3 linked regions of the Homo sapiens genome follow. The protein of the gene in region 2 interacts with the protein of the main gene of each other region in a biochemical or structural test. Each region holds a gene or a part of one and is shown on either strand. Other genes may lie near its edges. The genes, in order: OTUD5, TRIP12 and SOX6.

What was found.
Region 1: of the proteins of TRIP12 (region 2) and OTUD5, one has a biochemical effect on the other in vitro, tested with the Homo sapiens proteins (one study listed by BioGRID).
Region 3: of the proteins of TRIP12 (region 2) and SOX6, one has a biochemical effect on the other in vitro, tested with the Homo sapiens proteins (one study listed by BioGRID).

What each region holds. Positions count from the first base shown.
Region 1 is NC_000023.11:48,921,492-48,926,691, forward strand, and holds the end of OTUD5 (OTU domain-containing protein 5), read right to left. Parts: intron 4,560-5,200; coding exon 4,356-4,559; intron 2,562-4,355; coding exon 2,360-2,561; intron 2,256-2,359; coding exon 2,142-2,255; intron 1,808-2,141; coding exon of another isoform or gene 1,805-1,807; coding exon 1,683-1,804; 3' UTR 533-1,682; downstream 1-532. UniProt on the Homo sapiens protein: Deubiquitinating enzyme that functions as a negative regulator of the innate immune system. Has peptidase activity towards 'Lys-48'- and 'Lys-63'-linked polyubiquitin chains. Can also cleave 'Lys-11'-linked ubiquitin chains (in vitro).
Region 2 is NC_000002.12:229,911,953-229,919,068, forward strand, and holds part of TRIP12 (E3 ubiquitin-protein ligase TRIP12), read right to left. Parts: intron 1-7,116. UniProt on the Homo sapiens protein: E3 ubiquitin-protein ligase involved in ubiquitin fusion degradation (UFD) pathway and regulation of DNA repair.
Region 3 is NC_000011.10:16,353,451-16,361,052, forward strand, and holds the start of SOX6 (transcription factor SOX-6), read right to left. Parts: upstream 3,097-7,602; 5' UTR 2,644-3,096; intron 1-2,643. UniProt on the Homo sapiens protein: Transcription factor that plays a key role in several developmental processes, including neurogenesis, chondrocytes differentiation and cartilage formation.

The sequences.
Region 1 (5,200 bases), on a different chromosome or scaffold from region 2:
AGGAAGGTTTCAAAGCAACTCTACAACAAATAGATGCTTGGCCACTGGGTTCCAGACACACTCCGCAGACAGCCACTCAGCTAGCCATGCCCTCAACTGCAGAACCAGACACACATCCTGTCAGAGGGTCTCCATTATCATGGCATGGTGAAAAAGCTGCTTGAGAAAACCTGGGGGCCAGCCAGCCTTCTTTACCTTGGATTTACCCCTAGGGAGGACAGGCAAAGAGGTGTCAGACTGGGGGACAAGAACAAAAAAGGGTTTAGCCGTCCTTCACCTTCTAAAACCTAGTGGGTGAGGCCCCTCTGGTTACTTCCACTAAACTCATGTTGCTACAAAGTATCAGTTGCACTTTTCCAAGGCTTTTCTTCATCAGATCATGATAAGGAAAGAGCAGCATTCATGGTGAGAGGCAGGCGGAGAAGCTGGAATTCAGGCAGGAAGTTCAAGCTCACAGTCCTCTGCTACCATCACCCCCCCCCCCCCAGGAAATAGGGTAGGCAGGGGTGGGGTCAGCAGGCAAAGACGCAGCTTTTCCAGTGGCAATAGGTCCAGAAGGAGGTTTAATAAGCAGCAAATCAAATACAAACTCCAGGCCCCCAGACAGACCCTGCTGGAGAGCATTCACACCTCTGAGGTCAAGCCAAGGTCCGTGCCATTGCATCCTCTGCCCAGAGGCCCGCCCAACCCCTGCCCCACACAGAACAGAGTCGCTCAGGGAAACTGACATTTGGTTTTATTGTGCCAAGGACATTACAGATGGCGGATCTTGTCAACACCTGCAGGGCACGGGTGCCCCATCTGCCAAGGCTGCTCCCACACTCCCTACACTCAAATCCCGGGTGGCAGCCATAATCCCCAAAGATGACCCCCACCCCAAGATTCCAAAGAAGCTAGTGGTGGTGGAAGCAAAAGGAATGCAGCAAGGTCAGGGTTTCATTGTCCAAGCCGGCCTGACACCTGCCGCCCTGCCCTTGCCCAGTGCACACCCTAGACCCTGGGCCGGCCTCCATGCAGCTGGAGGCCAGAAGACAGCAACCCATATCTTTGCACCCTCCTCCATGCCCCATGGCCTGCCTGCCCAGAAAGATGCCACCTTCACAGAGCCAGTGCTGTCGTCTATATCATTTTTGATTAGTTGATTTTATAAGATAAAAGTAATTTTAATAAAGAAAAAATTCAACATTGAAGGCTCAGACGTTCTTGGGGGTACTGGGAAGGGAAATTTCCCACTTCTTCCTCCCACCTCCCTGGCATCAGTGTCGGGGGGTGGCGGCAAGTTTTTCTCATCTTGGAAGGAATGAGGGGCAGGGAGACTTTCCTCTGTCTGAATGTCTCTCTCCTCTGGGGCTGCCTGGCTGCCAGTTGGTCTGTCTCTGTGTGCCTCTTGTCTATCTTCGGCACCCTTGCCCGAGTCCCCTGTGGAATGCAGGGATGGTTCTGTGCGGGATGGGGTGGGGGGCAACAGGGCACATCAGCTGGCAGAGAGACAGGTGATAGTGGCAGCGGCAATGAGAGAGAGTGCAGGGGTGGGCTAGCCAGAGGGAAGTGAGGAGGAGGGAAAAGAGGGGAGAGCAGAAAGAACAGAAGGAGGCAAGAGGGAAGAAGCCAAAGAAGGTGAGGTGGCACCGGAGAGCAGGAGTACTGGGGTTGGGAGATGGTGTCCAATCCCTGGGTCTCCATCAACTCTTGTCTGGGGGCGGGTCTCTGTGCACTTTGTTTTTCTTCATACTGTCTAGGTATTCCTGTTGGGACACTGCCAGCACCGAAGCTAGGATCTCATCATCATCCCAGTCATTCAGACCTGCTGGGCGAGAGGAAGAGGAAAAGGATGATGGAGCGCTCTCAGCCTGCCTTCTCCTCACCCTGTGCCGACATCTGGGGCTCTGGAGAAATCCCATAGGGCCCTTCTCACTCCTTTCTCAAAACAGAAGGATCTGCTAGGCCTGTGAAACCCCACTTAGACCCCAGACCCTTCTGGGGCAAATTCCTTGGATCTGAAAAATCCCCTCCAGTGCCTCTCCCTTCTTTTCTTGGGGAGATGGCCAGAGGCTCCAGAAAGCCCCTCTCAGGACTTGCCACTTCTTCCAGTCTCTCCCAGCTCCTAGCAGCCTCCATCCCCCCAGACAAAGGAGGCTTACCAAAGGCAGAGGGGGACATCTGCTGAATGAGGGCCCGGCACTCCAAAGCAGGGTAGAGGGACACAAGGGGGGAAGTTGCCCGGTCGGCCCCTGCCGAGAACTGACTGCTTGTACCTGAAGCAGACGGACAGTCAAAGGTAGGGACCCAGGATCCAGGACCCAGGACCCAGGACGTGCCTCCTAACTCCCAGCACATTCCCTGTGGGCAAGTCACTGACCTGGCGCACAGGGCGAAGGAGGTTTGGCAAGAGCTAAAACAGTGCCTGGGGAAGGGGGCTTCATGCCCAATTCAGCATGCAGCTCAGGGTGCTCAGGTGACGAGGCTGAACTCCGCTGCCGCGGGGACCGGCTAGTCCACTCCTCCAGGCCACTGGAGGCTGCTGCTGTGGCCGAACTGCATGTGGCGCTGGCTTTCCGGGGCTGCAGCGGGGAAGGTAAATGCGTTAAGGACCACCAGCAGCCATGACCTTCTTGTGACCCATCCCTGAATGCTGGCTCCCTTCCCAGGACCTTGGCTATGATACAGCTTCTATGTAGGTCAACATCATCCCCACTCACACGGTGGACCACAAGACTCCTCACAGGACAGAGGTGGAGCTCCTTACCCTTTCTCTCACACCCCTACAGCCAATCTGACAGGAAACCCTGTTACCTCTATCTTGAAAATAGATCTCAAATCCAACCCCTTCTCACCAACTCCACTGCCAGCACTGGCCACCAGTCACCTGGCCTACTGCAGTAGCCTCCTCCTCACTGGCCCCTGCTTCTGCCCTCACTCACCAGACTCCACTGGATGACTAGCAGGCAAGGCGATCTTATTAAATCCCCAACCACATCCTGTCCGTCCTCTGCTCACAATCCTCCCATGGTTTCTGCCTCTCTGAGAGTAAATGCCAAAGTCCTCGCCACAGCCCACAAGCCCCTACCCAATTGGACCCACAACCTCTCTGACTTCATCTACTACTACATTCTGTTCGGATACACCGGCCTCCCTCTGGGCTGTGCCTGAGTTGTACCAGGTGTGTGGGCCTGCTGTCCTCCCCTCCATGTGCGCTCAGCTAACTCTCACCTTCTGCAAGGCTCAAATCTCACCTGCTCTGAGGCCTACCCTGACTGCGCTATTTCATACCGTGAACGCACATTCCTGCTCAGCCCCTTTATCCTGGCTCTACACTTTCCATCCATAGCACTTCCCAACTAATTTATTCATTATATTTATTATTTTATTTCACTCTGCAAAACTGTGAACATCACAAGGACGGGGATCTTGGTCTGCTGGGCTCACCTATGTATCCCCATATACTGAAAACAGGGCCTGCCACAGACTGGTAGTAGGTATTTGTGGAATAAAACTCAGCTCCTTCAGCCGGGTGCGGTGGCTCACGCCTGTAATCCCAGCACTTTGGGAGGCCGAGGTGGTCGGATCACGAGGTCAGGAGATGGAGACCATCCTGGCTAACACGGTGAAACCCCGTCTCTACTAAAAATACAAAAAATTAGCCAGGCGTGGTGGTGGGCGCCTGTAGTCCTAGTTACTCCGCAGGCTGAGGCAGGAGAATGGCATCAACCTGGGAGGCGGAGCTTGCAGTGAGCCGAGACTGCGCCACTGCACTCCAGCCTGGGCGACAGAGCAAGACTCTGTCTCCAAAAAAAAAAAAAAAAAAAAACTCAGCTCCTGCCAGCCAACATCTACAATCACTCCAAACTCCTTGCGATTTTACAATTCCTCAGATGCTTGTCTGCCCCGCCCCTCCCCGCTCCCCTAACAATTCAACCTTCCTCTGTGAAGACTAACCGGAGCCCCCACCTCCACTGATCTCCCAGTCAGGGTCAAGGACCCCACCATTGAGTTGTCTCTGCCAACAGACGAGATCGTTGAGGGCAGAGTAGTCCAGATCTGATGTTACATTCTCAGTAGAGACCTGGCACACAAGGGCAGTCAACAAAAGCTTGTGTCTCTGAAGCTATCCATTATTCTCGTGTCACCAGCAGCATGGCTGCCCTCCTCTCACTCCTTAAGTGCCTGTTCTGCACAAGTATTTAAAGTTCCAAGGTACAATGCCAAAACTAAGACCAAGATGAGTTACAGATGGTGCTGGATGCTTCCTTCCCTCCCAGATGTCAAAACTGCTTAATTTTTTTCTGCTCGCTTGAGGGCAAAGCATGAGAAGTAATGAGTTTTTGGCCAAGCCTGTGACAGAGTCCATGACCCACCTGGCTGGGGCCTCGGACCTGGCGAGCCTGTTTCTCCTGATCCCGCAACCACTGCAGGTAGGATTCCCGAGCCACCTGCTCCTCGATGGCTTCATTTGTGGCCTCCCAGTCTGTGGCCCGTTTCTTGTCTTCTAGCATCTGCTGTTCAATCCATGACTCCTCCGATGTTTTTATGGCATTCTTCATCAGAGACTGCTCTGCAAACTGCAAGGAGGGAGAGGAACAGGGATGTGCAATAACACACTGAACCTGCCCAAGAGCCAGAACAGGCTCAGCGAGGTAGGCCCACAGGCCCCAGAAAAAAAAGGAGACAGGAAAGCAGGTACTCCCAAAGAGCAACACTCCACAGACTACCTCTTGATTGGGGACCAAGGGAAAGCAGGCTTGGGATGTGGGACCTGTCATTCCAAACTCCTATGCTTGTAAGACCTGACTCTAACCCCCAAACCACCTCAACTGAGGCACTGAGACTGGAGCAGTCAGGTGCCTTCCAACCTGGGACTTATTTTTTTTTTTTTTTCTGAGACGAAGTATCGCTCTGTCGCCCAGGCTGGAGTGCAGTGGGGTAATCTCGGCTCACTGCAACCTCCGCCTCCCAGGTTCAAGGGATTCTCCAGCCTCAGCCTCCCAAGTAGCTGGGATTACAGGTGAGTGCCACCACCCCCGGCTAACTTTTTTGTATTTTTAGTAGAAATGGGGTTTCACCATGTTGGCCAGGCTGGCCTTGAACTCCTGACCTCAGGTGATCCACCCGACTCGGCCTCCCAAAGTGCTGGGATTATAGGTGTGAGCCACTGCACCTGGCCCTGGGCCTTAATTTAAAGAAGCCCCATCCAGTGATGACT
Region 2 (7,116 bases):
TAAGCAAAAGTTTCCCTATATAAGACTTACAAATTACTGAGGACAACTCACAAAAAATCATGCATTAGGTATCAAAAAGTATTTTGAATTACAAAAAATCTGAACAAACAACAGTTGAATGTGCTGAGACAAAATGACTGATAGCTTCCACTAAAGGAAGACTTCTGTGTCCAACAGAGGACTGGTGTGGGTCATTTAGACAATAAACCAGCTTCTGCTTATTTAACATTTTAAACAACAGGAAAAAACAAGAAGTTTTACCTTCACTACTTCTATCTCCTCCAAAACTTAATACAAAAACTTTTATATGTAGTATCAGAAAGGGAAGCACTGTCATAAAAAATGACATCTAAAAGCACTTTTATTTTTGTTTTCAGTTCATTCATAAATATTTTTGTACACCTTTTTCACATCACCTATTCAGGGATCAACAATCATTCAACATAATCTGTTAAATCTAATTCCGTGATCTCCCATTTAAGAACTTCAATAATCTCAGCCCAATTTCCTGTTATTTCATATATATGGACCCTCTACTCCAGAGAGCCCATTTACCTTAATATTAGATCCTCACCACAATTACACCTTTAAGCTCCCCATTCTTCTATATCTTCCTCCAAACAATCAGGGCCAGTTTAAGCCCCTCTCTCTTCATAGTCTTCCTAAGTAACTTCAACCCAGAACTGAACCTCTCTAAACTTCCAAGTACCCACTGTATAAAACTCGATCTTGTACTTAATAACAAATATGCACAATGTTAGATGTTGTGTGCTGTAGTCGTAAGTTTCAACTCATCTACAACAAAGTACATTTCAAGATAAGGAATCTCCTTTTATAAATCTCTTCTTTTTCAGCACCCTCTAAGAGGGCAGATCTTGTATGGAACCAGATATGCACTCACATTAGCTGCTGATGAGTATTTGTTTTTGTTTTTTGAGACAGAGTCTCACTCTGTGGCCTAGACTGGAGTGCAGTGGCATGACGCACTGCAGCCTCAACTTCCTGGGTTCAAGCAATCCTCCCAAGTAGCTGGGGCTACAGGCATGCACCACCACATCAGGCTAATTTTTTATTTTTAGTAGAGATGATGTCTTGCTGTGTTGCCTAGGTTGGTCCTGAACTCCTGGGCTCAAATCATCCTCCTGCCTCAGCCTCCCTAGGGGTTGGAATTACAGGCATGAGCCACAGCACCTGGCTGAATATTTGTAAATGAAGATGCTTCAACAATTTATTTAGTATAGCCACAAATCATGCCCTAATTCATGTTTCTTAATTTACATTCTAATATCAGATTTTCTAAATGCAGAAAATCTACATTTAGAATTTTACAGAATATTTCTCTATGCTAAATACTATACTCCTATATACAGTTTTAGACAAATAAGCTGTGATGGAATAAGATAAATATCAACTATATGAAACATAACAGAACTTGGAAGACAAGGAATAAGTTTCAGGTCCCTTTTATATTCTGTCAAGCACAATTGTGGCACACAGTAAGCACTTGATAAATATGTATTGATAAATAAATCATCATCTACTAATAAACATCATCTCCAAATGCTAAATTTGGGGTAACCAACTAACTAAAATATTCTAGGGTCTTAACAATTCCTTAAGTAGCTGATTTTAATGAGCCTAATTTTGAAAAATTTATATTCTACACTCAGCTGCCAACCCCTGAAAAATGAAAACAAGCAAGTAAATTATGGCAAACGATGCTAATATTATTTCACAACATCGTTTCTCAATGTGTCACACCAGAACACACTACCACGTACACCTACCATGTACAATGCATTATGTTGGAAGCCTTGTGCTAGACACTGTGAAGATAAAAGAATGAGATCTCTACCTTGAAGAGGCCAAAAACCCAGTTAAGTTAAAATGTAAACAACTAATTATGTAAGACAGAACGTGAAAGTCATCCTGAAATATGTTACAGAAGGAGAATAGGAGAGTAAGGAGTAAAAATTTTAAAGGAGTCACTGGAAGAAAGTTAAGTGTAAGTATATATATTTCTAAGAGATACAGGCCAGGCGCGGTGGCTCACACTTGTAATCCCAGCACTTTGGGAAGCCGAGGTGGGTGGATTGCCTGAGGTCAGGAGTTGGAGACCAGTCTACAATCCCAGCTACTCAGGAGGCTGAGGCAGGGAATCGCTTGAACCAAGGAGGTGGAGGTGGAGGCTGCAGTGAGTCGGGATCGCACCACTGCACTCCAGCCTGGGCGGCAAAGCAAAACTCTGCCTCAAAAAATAAAAATAATAATAAAAATAATAGATACAAGATGTGAGAGGGGGTGTCAATTCAAGTAGACAAAAAACCAAAGCAAAAATGCTAAAAAGTTGCTGGGTGTGTTCAGAGAGGAAGAAACAGTTCAATCTGATTGCAGCCAAGGATGTAAAACAGAATTACGAAACACTGGGGTCTGAGAAGTTGACAGCATTTGCATATATTTCCTATTTACAAGGCTACTAGAAGCACTTGGTTTTTGAGAATCAAAAAAAGTAGGGGACATTCATATGATCTCTATGAACCTGCTCTCTAAGGACACAAAGTAGCTTAAATTACAACTGAAGAGAGAATTTCAAGAGATGGGCTACTGTGAAAACTCACTTTAGGTTTCCAGGGCATCGCACATGTTTACCAGTATAAAATCTTTAAATTAAGTTCATCTGACCTTAAGAACACAGCACAAGGTACATCTATTTATTCAGAGCACTGCCCACGGCTAGAGTGAGTAGGAGTTTTGAAGTCAGGGTAGAACTCATTGGTTATGACAGCCAACAAGTTGATTAAAATACACACTGAAATGCTGTAACTTCAAGTCTTGAAGGCTTGTTGATGGACACTTAGGCTTATAAATAGCCTTCAAAAATCCATGTATGGGTAATAACACCATATTTATAGAAATATGTACATGCTCTCTAAAAAGAAACAAACAGAATAAACTACAATGATGTATACTATTATAAATTGGAAACACTAATCATTTAGCACTGCATTAAAACATATTGGCCAGGCACAGTGGTTCATTCTTGTAATACCAGCACTTTGGGAGACCAAGGCGGGTGTATCACGTGAGGTCAGGAGTTCAAGACCAGCCTGGCCAACAGAGTGAAACCTGTCTCTACTAAAAATACAAAAAATTAGCTGGGTGTGGTGGCAGGCACCTGTATCCCGGCTACTCGGGAGGCTGAGGCAGGAGGATTGCTTGAACCCGGGAGGCAGAGGTTACAAGTGAGCCAAGATTGCGCCACTGCACTCCAATCTGGACAACACAGCGAAACTCAATCTCAAAAAAAAAACTTATTTAGGTCCTCAATGTACTTTATCAACTATTACATGCACATAATGGTCAATTAAAGAGTAACAAAATGGCTTGCCCTAATTCTTTTTAAAATGTATGATTTAAAGTAACTTGCAGTCTCCAAAATATATACTGACTAAAAGTCTCAAAGTCATTTTAGCATTAACGATGCAAAATAAGAATCAAAATTTTAAAAATAGGACATTAAGCCATTACAAAATATTTCCACTTACAGTATCTTATTTTATTTTCACAAGACTTATTCTGTCAACAAACGCTTAATCCCTATCATGGGCCAGCTACTGTGCTAGATGCAGAGATAAAAAGGGACACTACTTGGGATTAGTGTCCTTATAAAAGTTAAAAAAAGGGTGAGGGCTAAAGACTTTAAAGAATTCATAATCAACTAAGGAATACTATTGTATACTAAAAAAAAAAAAAAATTTTTTGAGACAGGGTCTCACGGTCACCCAGGCTGGAGTGCAGTGGCACAATTACAGCTCAGCACAGCTTCCATCTCCCAGGCTCAAGCAATCCTCTCACCTCAGCCTCCCAGGTAGCTGAAGACTACAGGCATGTGCCACCATGCCCAGCTAATTTTTTACTTTTAGTAGCAACAAGGTCTCTACTAAGTTGCTCAGGCTAGTCTCAAACTCCTGGGCTCAAGTGATCCTCCTGCCTCAGCCTCCCAAAGTTCTGGAATTACAGGCATGAGCCACTGGGTCAAATGTTTCAAGTAGGATACCTATGCATATAACAGAGGTATGTTCGAGTTAAAAGAGTTTTAACAAATGAGGCAATGGTCCACAGTACTGTAAACAAGTGGAGAAAGGGCCTTGTGTTCCAATTCATCTGTGGAGCCTAATCTAAATACAGAATGTCTAGCATATAAATGACAACTGACTCTACATTAGGTGGTAATAATCAAATTTTTCAGATTAGGCACTTGAAGCTCACAAAGTACTAAGTTAAATTATTTGCCCAAGGTTACAAAGATGGGAAATGCATAGCCAGGATTGGAACCTAAGTCTTGCCTTCAAATCAGATAATCACTTGAACAGTGCTATTAAGGAAAACACACAGTAGCAGGTATTTTTCACTCTAGACCATTTGAATGACTTTTTAAATCAAGCATAACCATGATAGCCAAGTGTGGAGGTGCCCGTCTGTGATCCCAGTATTTGGGAGGCTGAGGCAGGAGAATCACTTGAACCTGGAAGGTGGAGGTTGCAGTGAGCCGAGATCGCGCCACTGCACTCCAGCCTGGGTGACAAAAGTGAGACTCTGTCTCAACAAACGAACAAGCATAACCATGAAACTGACTACTGCCAATAGCTTCTGCACTCTCAAGACAAAGCAGGTAAGCCTGAATAATGGGTAAGTTCCTTTTTCTTCTATCCAATTCAGTTTAATGAAATCACTGAAATCACAATAAACAACCAAAATCTAAAAGGCCTCAGAGAAAAATGACTGAACAGACTTATTTCAGTCTAGGAAACCTCTTTTTGCCAATAACCTAAAACTATCAGTAAGTTAGGATATTAAAGAACTACATTTTTAAAAAACCCAAGACATTAGCAGAGTTAAATTTTACTTAAAAAAAAAAAAAGAAAAATCAAGGGACAGGTCTAGCATCGGTATACTTATCTATTTATTACAAATAACAGCAAGCATCCATTATGCACAGAGAAACCCAGCAGAGAGGTAGAGAACAACTGCTTTGAGGTTATGTCTTCAAGTCTGTAACACAGCTGCTGAAATGATACACAAGTACCAAAAGAAAATACACAAGTAAAGCTTACATTACACTACACGTTAAGAATTACCAAGCACTGGCCGGGCGCGGTGGCTCACGCCTGTAATCCCAGCACTTTGGGAGTCCAAGGCGGGTGGATCACGAGGTCAGGAAATCAAGACCATCCTGGCTAACAAGGTGAAACCCCATCTCTACTAAAAATACAAAAAAATTAGCTGGGCGTGGTGGCTGGCACCTGTAGTCCCAGCTACTCGGGAGGCTGAGGCAAGAGAATGGCATGAACCCTGGAGGCGGAGCCTGCAGTGAGCCAAGATCGCGCCATTGCACTCCACCCTGGGCAACAGAGCGAGACTCTGTCTCAAAAAAAAAAAAAAAAAAAAAAAAAAAAAAAAAAAAAAATTACCAAGCACTAAGATTATATACAACAATCTAAAAATTATATTTATTCTGTAACATCCACCAGATTTTTACTCTTCCACCCTATCTGGCCTGGACTCTCCTCAGGCTTGGCCTTATTAACTAAAGCTTGGCCTATGAAAAAAGTGGCACAGAATAATCCACTGGCTTAACACTAAAACATGGCAGTGACAGTTGATATCCATCCAGGCACTCTAATGGCACGTTAGTCAGGGGAGATGTGAAGAGGCCCTGATCACTGAACCAACCAAGAGAAAGCATTCTGAAGAATCTGCTGGGGTCAAAGAACCCTTCCAAGCAGGTTGGAGTCCAGTGGCATGATCATAACTATTAACTTCAAATCTCTGGGTTCAAGCAATACTTCCGCTTCAGCCTCCAAAGTTGCCTAGAACTACTGATGCATGCCACCATGCCCAGCTAACTTTTTTTTTCTTTTTTGTGGAGACAGTCTCACTATGTTGCCTGGGCTACAACTCCTAGCCTCAAGCGATCCTCCCACGTCCTCACCTCCAGTGCCACCTCACCCAGACCAATCAGGTTTATTAGTATACCTTCACACATACCACATTGACATGAAATCATCCTTGCCCTCAGGAAGCCTACAGTCCAATCAGGGAAACAAAAGCAACACATGTCAACAAATGCAATACTGTAATGCAGAAACGAAGCAAGTACAGTTAATCAGAAATACAAAGATCACAGGTAGAAACTTGTTCGAGGAAGTGATCTGAAGACATGAGTTGTAAGTTGTTCTTCACATCCTTTATCTTCTATGTTTTTCTGTACATAGTGGGTGCTTGCTTGATTTAAATGAGGGAAAAGTCCATGTCAAACAGGCAATTGCAAGGAATGATTTCAGTGAAGATTAAAAAACCAAGTAGGTTGCTGTTTTGACTTGAGTCCATCAAATAGCAAACAAAAAAATAAAGGAGCAACTGGTATCACATTTGCTCAAAAAGATCCCTACCCATCCACTTAAAAGGGGGGAAAGTTCCCTAGGTTCTGTAAAGAAAACAGTGACCAAGATTCAGAAGCATTATTCCCTAATTGTAATCTCTTACATTAAGTCAATTTCATTAGAGTCACAAACCAGAACAGGTACTTTGTCAATAAAAAACGTAAATGAATTTGAAGTTTCTTTAAACATATTAACAAGTTTTTTCAGTAGAATGTATGGCAAACAAGTATCTGGCATGCTGATACCAAAAAAAGAAGGTAACTTTAAAAAGACAAAAATGAGACCCAAATTCTACTACCAATTAAGCAGCAATTTCAAATTATGAAGTTCTATAACTCTGTACCTTCAACCTAGTTTACATTAATTCTCCCCTGCCCCATGGACCACCACGACTAATGAGAAGCTGTATCTTTTAAAAATGACCTCAAAACAGCTCATGTAATTTTCTAAAATTAATTTATTTAGCATGTTGTTTTTTTTCAGTCATTACATCTGTTGGGTCTCACAACCACCCAGTGAGGTAAAATAGAGATTACCCACTCCCATTTTACAGATAAAATAAATGAAGACCAGATAGGTTAAGTGACTAGCTCAAGGTCACAAAGCTACTAACTGGTAGTGTGTGAATTTCCAAGCCAGTGATGTTTTCCTTGCTAAGATGAAAACCTTAAAA
Region 3 (7,602 bases), on a different chromosome or scaffold from region 2:
AAGCTGAAGAAAGGTTTTTACCACCAACCCAAATTTCCACATTTTTTTATACACACCAAACAGTCTGGTTTCACAAATAACTAAAGTGCTGCTATCTTGTATTTCTCCCTCTGTACTTCCACCACCTCCTCCCTTTCTTATAGCTATTTGCTTTAAATTTCTCACTTGCATTTGCTGGAATTATCATAAACAGCTCCAGGAGAACATGAGAATCCAATTGTTTCCATGAATCATTGCACAGAATTGTTTGAGTTATCATTATAAAAGACAAGTATGACTACCTGCTGTCTTGCATACTTAAGGGATTCTTTACCAAGTACATATTTGCACACCTACCAAGGTACAGAATTTCTGGTTTTCCCAAGCTGTGGTGTTAGTTATAGGAAAGAATCCTGCATTATTTATCTGGTCCTGTTCTTTCTTCTCATATAACCACCACCTCCACCTCACGATTTCCCAAAATTGAGTAGTCCCCTGAAAAACTTTTACATTTATCATGCCTAATCTACCAGCTTTTTAGATTTCTTCAAAAGTAATACTTTATTTGCATCCATGGTGCCTAGAACTGGAAAACTGCTTGCTACCAGTCTTACCAGGATCTATTGCCAGAAGGAAAAGTACAGTATAATGGAAAGGTTTAGAGGAAAGACTTAAATCTCATTTACTATGTCTGTGAACTTCAGAAGTTACTTAACTCTCTGAGTCTCTATGTACCCATCTATAAAATTAGGGACAACACATCTTCCTTGAAAAGTTGTTGTGAAGAGATTAATTTGATATATGTGCAAATACCTGGTATTTGGTAGTTATGAAACAAATGCTAACTTTCTTTAAAGAAAACTTGACAGAAAAATGGTTTGACTCAAACAAAAACAAATAAAAATCCTTAAAGAAAAAGATTCTGAATTTTTACACATCACAATAAATAAAAATTCCACGGAATATAAGTTTTCCAGTCCCAATATACTCGTGACCCAGTGCTGAGTGAACTAATGACAAGAACCATGCCAAGAAAATAAAAAGCACAGGGTAAAAATATATTGTTACTGTTTCTCAAAAGGGGTATGGACAGGAGGGAATCACTTTTTACACAGGGAAGACCAAAGCCTACAGCATCTGCTGCTGATAACTGTATTCCTAAGGACAATAGAGTCCTGAGCTGTAGGTGCCTATTCAAACCACCTATTATTAACCTCTTTCCTTGATTTTCAACTAAAACGGTCCAAGTATTTGGAGACTGTAACCCATTTGCTCAGAATTAATTTTTAAACAGAAGCAGCCTTGCAGTATACTAAAATTGCTACCAGAGCTTAAATTAACTTGACAATAAATAAAAAGTCTGAGCTACCCTATCCTATGAAATACATGAATACCTTTCAAAGCCTGATTATTTTCTTGTCCCCTGGCCCAACACTAAATGTTCCAAAATGTTACTTGTTTCACACAATTTTTTTTTATTTCTAAATCAGGTCTAAAATCAAGTTGCTACTAGTGTGCTAAAGAACCCCAGCACATTCTCATGAGCTGATTGAAAGCAGCTTACCTTAAAATTCTCCTCTCACAATTCACTTTAGAAAATCAACTTGAGGAGTCATAGATTTGCTAGACTAACTGTTTGGTATTCTGGTCAATTCATTATCACAAAATAGGTATTATTAACTGTACCACAGCTTAGAACAATGACACACTATTCCATGTGTAGTTTGAGATCACTATTTCCACAATTTGAAGCTGAAAGTTCCATCATCAAGATAAACTTGCCTAAAGACCAAACTCACAAACAATAAGGTATCTAGGAAAGCTGGATAAGGAAAGAAACAAATTAATATTTTGAACTTTGACAGGCATGATGGAAAACAAATTCAAGGTGTGTGTTACTCAGAAAAATTCAAAAGAAATGTATCGCAGAATAAAAAGGAGTAAATTGAAAAGCATTGATAAAGCACTATTTTTAATGCACTTGCCAATCATCAATTTAATTTACTATAGTTTTATATAAATAATACTTTCAATACATAGTTATAGCATTAAATACTATAAATCTCAATGTAATACCAGTCTTGCTTAGTTATAGCAGCTTATGAACATTAATAATTTTAAGTTTTTACTAAAAACACATCAGCAATTACCCAGTGGTCTGCTTGTCAGTTGTGTTTCTTTGAAATGTTTATTATGATTAAATATTTTCATTAGTAAAAACATCTTTTACCATAGTGCATAAAATACCTTATCAGATGCAGCATATATTAGAAACTAGCCGTGTATATTGGAAAGATTGATTTTATTGAAAAGATTCATGTAGGGAATCTATGATTCCTCATAGATAATAGTACTCAGGACCTTAGATTATACAGAAAAAATAATCACATGTTAAAAATCTACGAGATGCTACAAATAAAGGTATGCATATTCAACCCTCAGGAAAACCAAATCTGTTTTTAAATAGTCTGTTGCAATTCCCTAGCAAGATTACAAATGTCATGCAAAAATGCTTTTCAAGTTATTACCTTATTACCATAACATAAGCTTTTCTTAACAAGCCATCATCCCACCCAATCAGGTAGGCTTTGAAGTTAGAAAAATTAAAAGGTAAAGTAATACAGCCAAGACCTGTGACAGCTAAAGGAAGCACAAATCACTCACATGAAGTGGCTGCTCTTCCACTCTTCAATCCGGCTTTCTCTTACCACATCAGCCAGAACTTCAGAACTTGAGGGCATAACACCTTTGACACCTTCCCAAATCACAAGAAACCTCTGACTGCCAACCAAAAAAAAAAAAAACCCAACCCCACAGCTAATTAATCTCTGCCAAGTCTCAGGCTACCAATTGTAGCCATAACTTTAAGCAACATCTAATTTGCTAAACAAAACACTGTTAACTTTGTTCAACAATTAAAGGAGTTAAAAACATAAAAGTAAATGAAAGAAGTGAAATCTCTTGGCCTGTTGGGAGATACAGTACCCCACATACCTTCTGCCACTGCTGCTACAGTTAAGCAAACTTTACAAGCTAGTCAAGCCATCATCCAATAGAGCCTATTTGCTGAGCAACAGTGGAGCTTTGTGGTTTGCCTCACAGTTGACAGTAAGTTATGAGCCCTTTGTGAGCACAGGGGAAGGAAAACAGAGATCGGAATTTGGCAGGAAAATATAATACAGAATTCTCCTGTCTATGGAACCTGAATTTTTGTGAAAACAATCAAGCATTGTTGAAAGAAAGAAAAGCAACTTTGACAGATGAAATATAGAGGGGCCCCTTTTAGGAAAACAGTAAACAAAGCGCCATTCAGGCCAGGTCCATTCTGTCATTTATAAAGATAGTTTCTTCTGTGTGGTGAGAGTTTACAGCAAAGAGTTCAGATTCAACAAATCAAGTGTAAAATCTCCCACAGTCCCCATTAAAAAAGCCTGCTAGGAAAAGACAGGAATGCCAAAGAGAAAAATATCACAAGTTTTTCTGTTTGGTAGAGAGGATACAATAAGTAGATGGGGTGAAAGGGACTCTAAGAGAAGTCTGAAAGACAAGCCAAAAAACTAACAATTGTTAATTATAAAAGGCTAATTTTGTCAGAGACAGGAAAAGAGGAGGACACTGGAGATCACTCAATAGAAATATGAAAGGAAGAAGCCATTCTTCATCATTGTTGGAGAACTATGTCTCTATTTCTCCAGGCTGGACCTCATGAGGTCATCATTGGCACGAAAGGCTCAAAAACTTGGGCTTGGTACTACTATAGTTTGGCCATCTGGAATGTCAGCACACAGTGCACTACTTTCTCCAAAGTATCTTAATTCCTCTTTCCAAAAATAGGCACCCTGGCCAGCTTTAGTCACCCAGACTGGAAAATGTACAGCACAGAATGAAATGAAAAGCATTTTTGTTTTCTCACCCTCCTCAACTAGAAATACGATTTCTGTGCGGGAGAATTAAGGAAGAGGGGCCCAGAGCACTGAAGCTCTGATTTACAGAGCCTATTTCTGCTATGCGTACGGTCGGCAATTGTTAGTACTTATAACCAACTGAGTTTTGGGCATCCATGGAATTCTTAAAGACGTATGTCTTTTCAGCCAACACAGTCATTGTTAATGCTTTAAAGAATAAAAAAGAGGGACCACAAGCCAATAAAGTCACAATTAGAATCAAATGACACATTGCTTGCACATCATTTGGAAAACATGTATAAAACTACTTGGTTTTTGCTACACCCAGCTAAAGTGACAGCCTTCGCTGTGTGTTAATCTGGAATCAAACCAAGCCACACCTAAACAAATAATGCTTAGTAGATGCAAAATAATACGGATTCTTTTATTTAGACTACCCAAACAATTTATTTCACCAACGAAATCCCATAATAACTAGCTACATTTTAAACATTCCTTTTAAAACAAAGCCCACAAAATGCTGAAGTGTGCCCATAGGTCAAGAATAATAAAAGCAAGCATGCATATGGATTCAATGCTGCAGATTTATTCAGCATTGGTTAATGGTTTCTATAGAGATTGATGTCAATCTCTCTGGCCTTTCTTGTGTCAACAGTAAGTTACAACAAGAAAGATCGTGGCTTTTGCCTTTGATTAGAAGAGGTATCTTTCTCTAGTTGACTGAAGGTCACAGCATTTGCAACATGTGCTCACTTATTACAGCTCCCATGCAGAATGTATACATAAAAAGCTGATTTACTCCCCAAAAAGGGCCAGAGCCATAGTGAACAAAAGATGACTCTGACCACATTAGATGGTTTTCTTTTCAAATAAATTCAGTCCTGATAAACCATTAAACATCAGCACATTACTAATAAAACTATAACTAGGAGACATCCTTCCACTCTGCCATTCTCCTGCCATCAACGACTTTCAAAATTATAGAATGCCAGGACAAATCATTACATTGTTTTACCTTAAAAATATATTTTACAAGAAAATTCTCAATTTTATTATGAAAGAACAAATAGTTCTACCAACAGGAAAGTGTTACAGCAAACAAACAGGGTAACTAAGGGGAAACCCAGTTGGTTTGAACATCTAGCAGCTGAACAGAACACAACATGACTAAAATATACATATATGCACATCGATTCATGTGGCAGAGCATCAACTTATGCCCCAATTACTGGTCTAGAAAGAACACCTAAATAAGAAGTGTTTGGAGAAATTATCTGGAAGACAGGCCATAAGAGGGAAAGAAATTAGCAGGATTTTTCTCAATAAGCTTCCTTTCAAGTAGTAGATATTTTGCCACAGTGTTCTGAAGGAAACAGAATCATGGTTTGACCTGAAAGAGAAAGAAAAGAAAATCCCTTTTCTCTGGCCTCAATTCTTTATCTGTAAAATGAGGTATGTTTCTAACACTGAAATTTTATTAGCCTATGACTCTAAGGCAATCCTAATAGGAGAAATACTAAAATTGGCTTGTGAACCAGAGAAGTTGCCAGTTCTGTGTCTACTACCTCTTTTATTTAGCCTACAAATATTTACTGACTACCTGCACTGTGTCAAGTACCATACTGACTGCCAGACAGACATACAGAGGCATATAAATAAGACAGCAACTTCCCATAGTCCACAGTCTAGCAAGAAATATAAATGGAAAATAAACCATTGAAAAGTGATAGGATAAGAAACCAGGTACTAGAGAGATATATTGTAGGAGCCCAGAAGAAGGAACAAATACCTCATTTTGGAGGGATCAGAGACATTACAGAAGACTCACTTAACCGGGTCCTCAGAACGAGAAGTTTGTCTGGTGGAACTAAAAAAAAAAAGGACATTCCAAGATGTGCAAGGGCTGAGACTTATAAAAGAATATGGTTACATTCCAAGAAGAGGAAGAACTTTGAAGTGACTGAACTATGGAGTGCATGGTGGGAAGTAGCAGGAAAAATATCTAGTAGGACAGAATGACAACAGATTGGAAAGGATTTCAAATGCAATTCAAAATAGTTTGGGTTTTATCCTCTGGGAAATAGGAAATCATTGGATTAACATAGGGAGTAGTAGGTCTGAATTTCCCTTATGAAAAAAAAATCTCCAGTGGCCTTAGGAAGGATGACTCATCCAAAAGGTTGTATATATGTTTATGCTCCTGTCATTTGTATTTATCTGTGCCTACCTGTCCTTTTCTTATCTTGTCCTTGGTGTTCTGCTCGACATGTGATACTGACCAGTTCCTCTCTACCTCTACGTTCTTTCAAGTCTCCATTTTAAGTCTCTACAAATGCCACTGATAAATGTTGTTGAAAGAAGGTAGATGAAGCGAGTAGGGAACGAAGAGGAGGAAATAATATGAATAATCACAAAGGAAATATCAAAGAAGAAGAGAGAAGTTATACTAATAAAAATAACAACCTAATGGCTAATGGTACTGAGTGCATACTATGCGACAAGCTCATTACTTTATGCTTCACAGTACCTCATTAAATCTCAAAACAACCCCACAACAAAGCTACCAATTTATCCCCATTTGCAGATGAGCTAAGTGAGGCTTAGAAGTGGTTAAGTAATTTGACTATGGTTACAAAGTAAATGAGAGAGAAGAGATTCAAGTGAGTCCTGTCTGACTCCAAATCCCATGCTTTTAACTTTTACACTATACTTCTAATGATATCAGTTACTGAATGTTAACCATGTGTCAAAAACTATCCTAGCTGCTTTGCACAGGCTATGTCTAAGACCTACAATAATCTTAAAAAGTAAATATCATTGTCCCCCATTTCACAGAAGAGAAGGGAGACTGAGTAGCTGATCTAAAGTTGTACAACTAGTAAGAGGCATCACCAGAGTTTGGGTGGTGATGCCTAGTCTGTTTGGATGCACCCTTTCCACTACATTATGATGTGTATATATTCTGATTCTTTCCTTCCCTACAGAACTCTTCCCCATCTCTACATTTCCAGACTCTACCTTCAAGGCTCAGCTAATATCTTACTTCTTCCAGAAGCCTGTCCACAAAATATTAGTTCACCATTGCATTCCTATCACGATTACTTGTGTAACATTCATTTAATTGGATCAAAATAGATATGTATTTGTTTCCTCCTATATGTTTATGTTCCATATCCCCAGTCAACTCCATAGTGCCTGTAGCAGGCTCCTCAGGCAAGATGTACTGCCCAAACATATCTTATACTACTCAGCCTCTAGAAGGGGACAAGAATTGTGTCATAATACATTGTATCCCCCAAGATAACTGGCAGAAACCTAAGTATATAGTAGGGCTTAATAAATAATGCGTTGAATGACTCCAATATACTCTAATAGTAAGAAGTTTTTGGCCAGGCACAGTGGCTCACGCCTGTAATCCCAGGACTTTGGGAGGCTGAGGCGGGCAGATCACAAGGTCAGGAGATCGAGACCATCCTGGCTAACATGGTGAAACCCCGTCTCTACTAAAAATACAAAAAGTTGGCCGGGCATGGTGGCAGGCACCTGTAGTCCCAGCTACTCGGGAGGCTGAGGCAGGAGAATGGCGTGAACCCGGGAGGCAGAGCTTGAAGTGAGCCAAAATCACACCACTGCACTCCAGTCTGGGCAAAAGAGCAAGACTCCATCTCAAAAAAAAAAAAGAAGAAGAAGAAGAAGTTTTCAAAAATAATATTAGCAA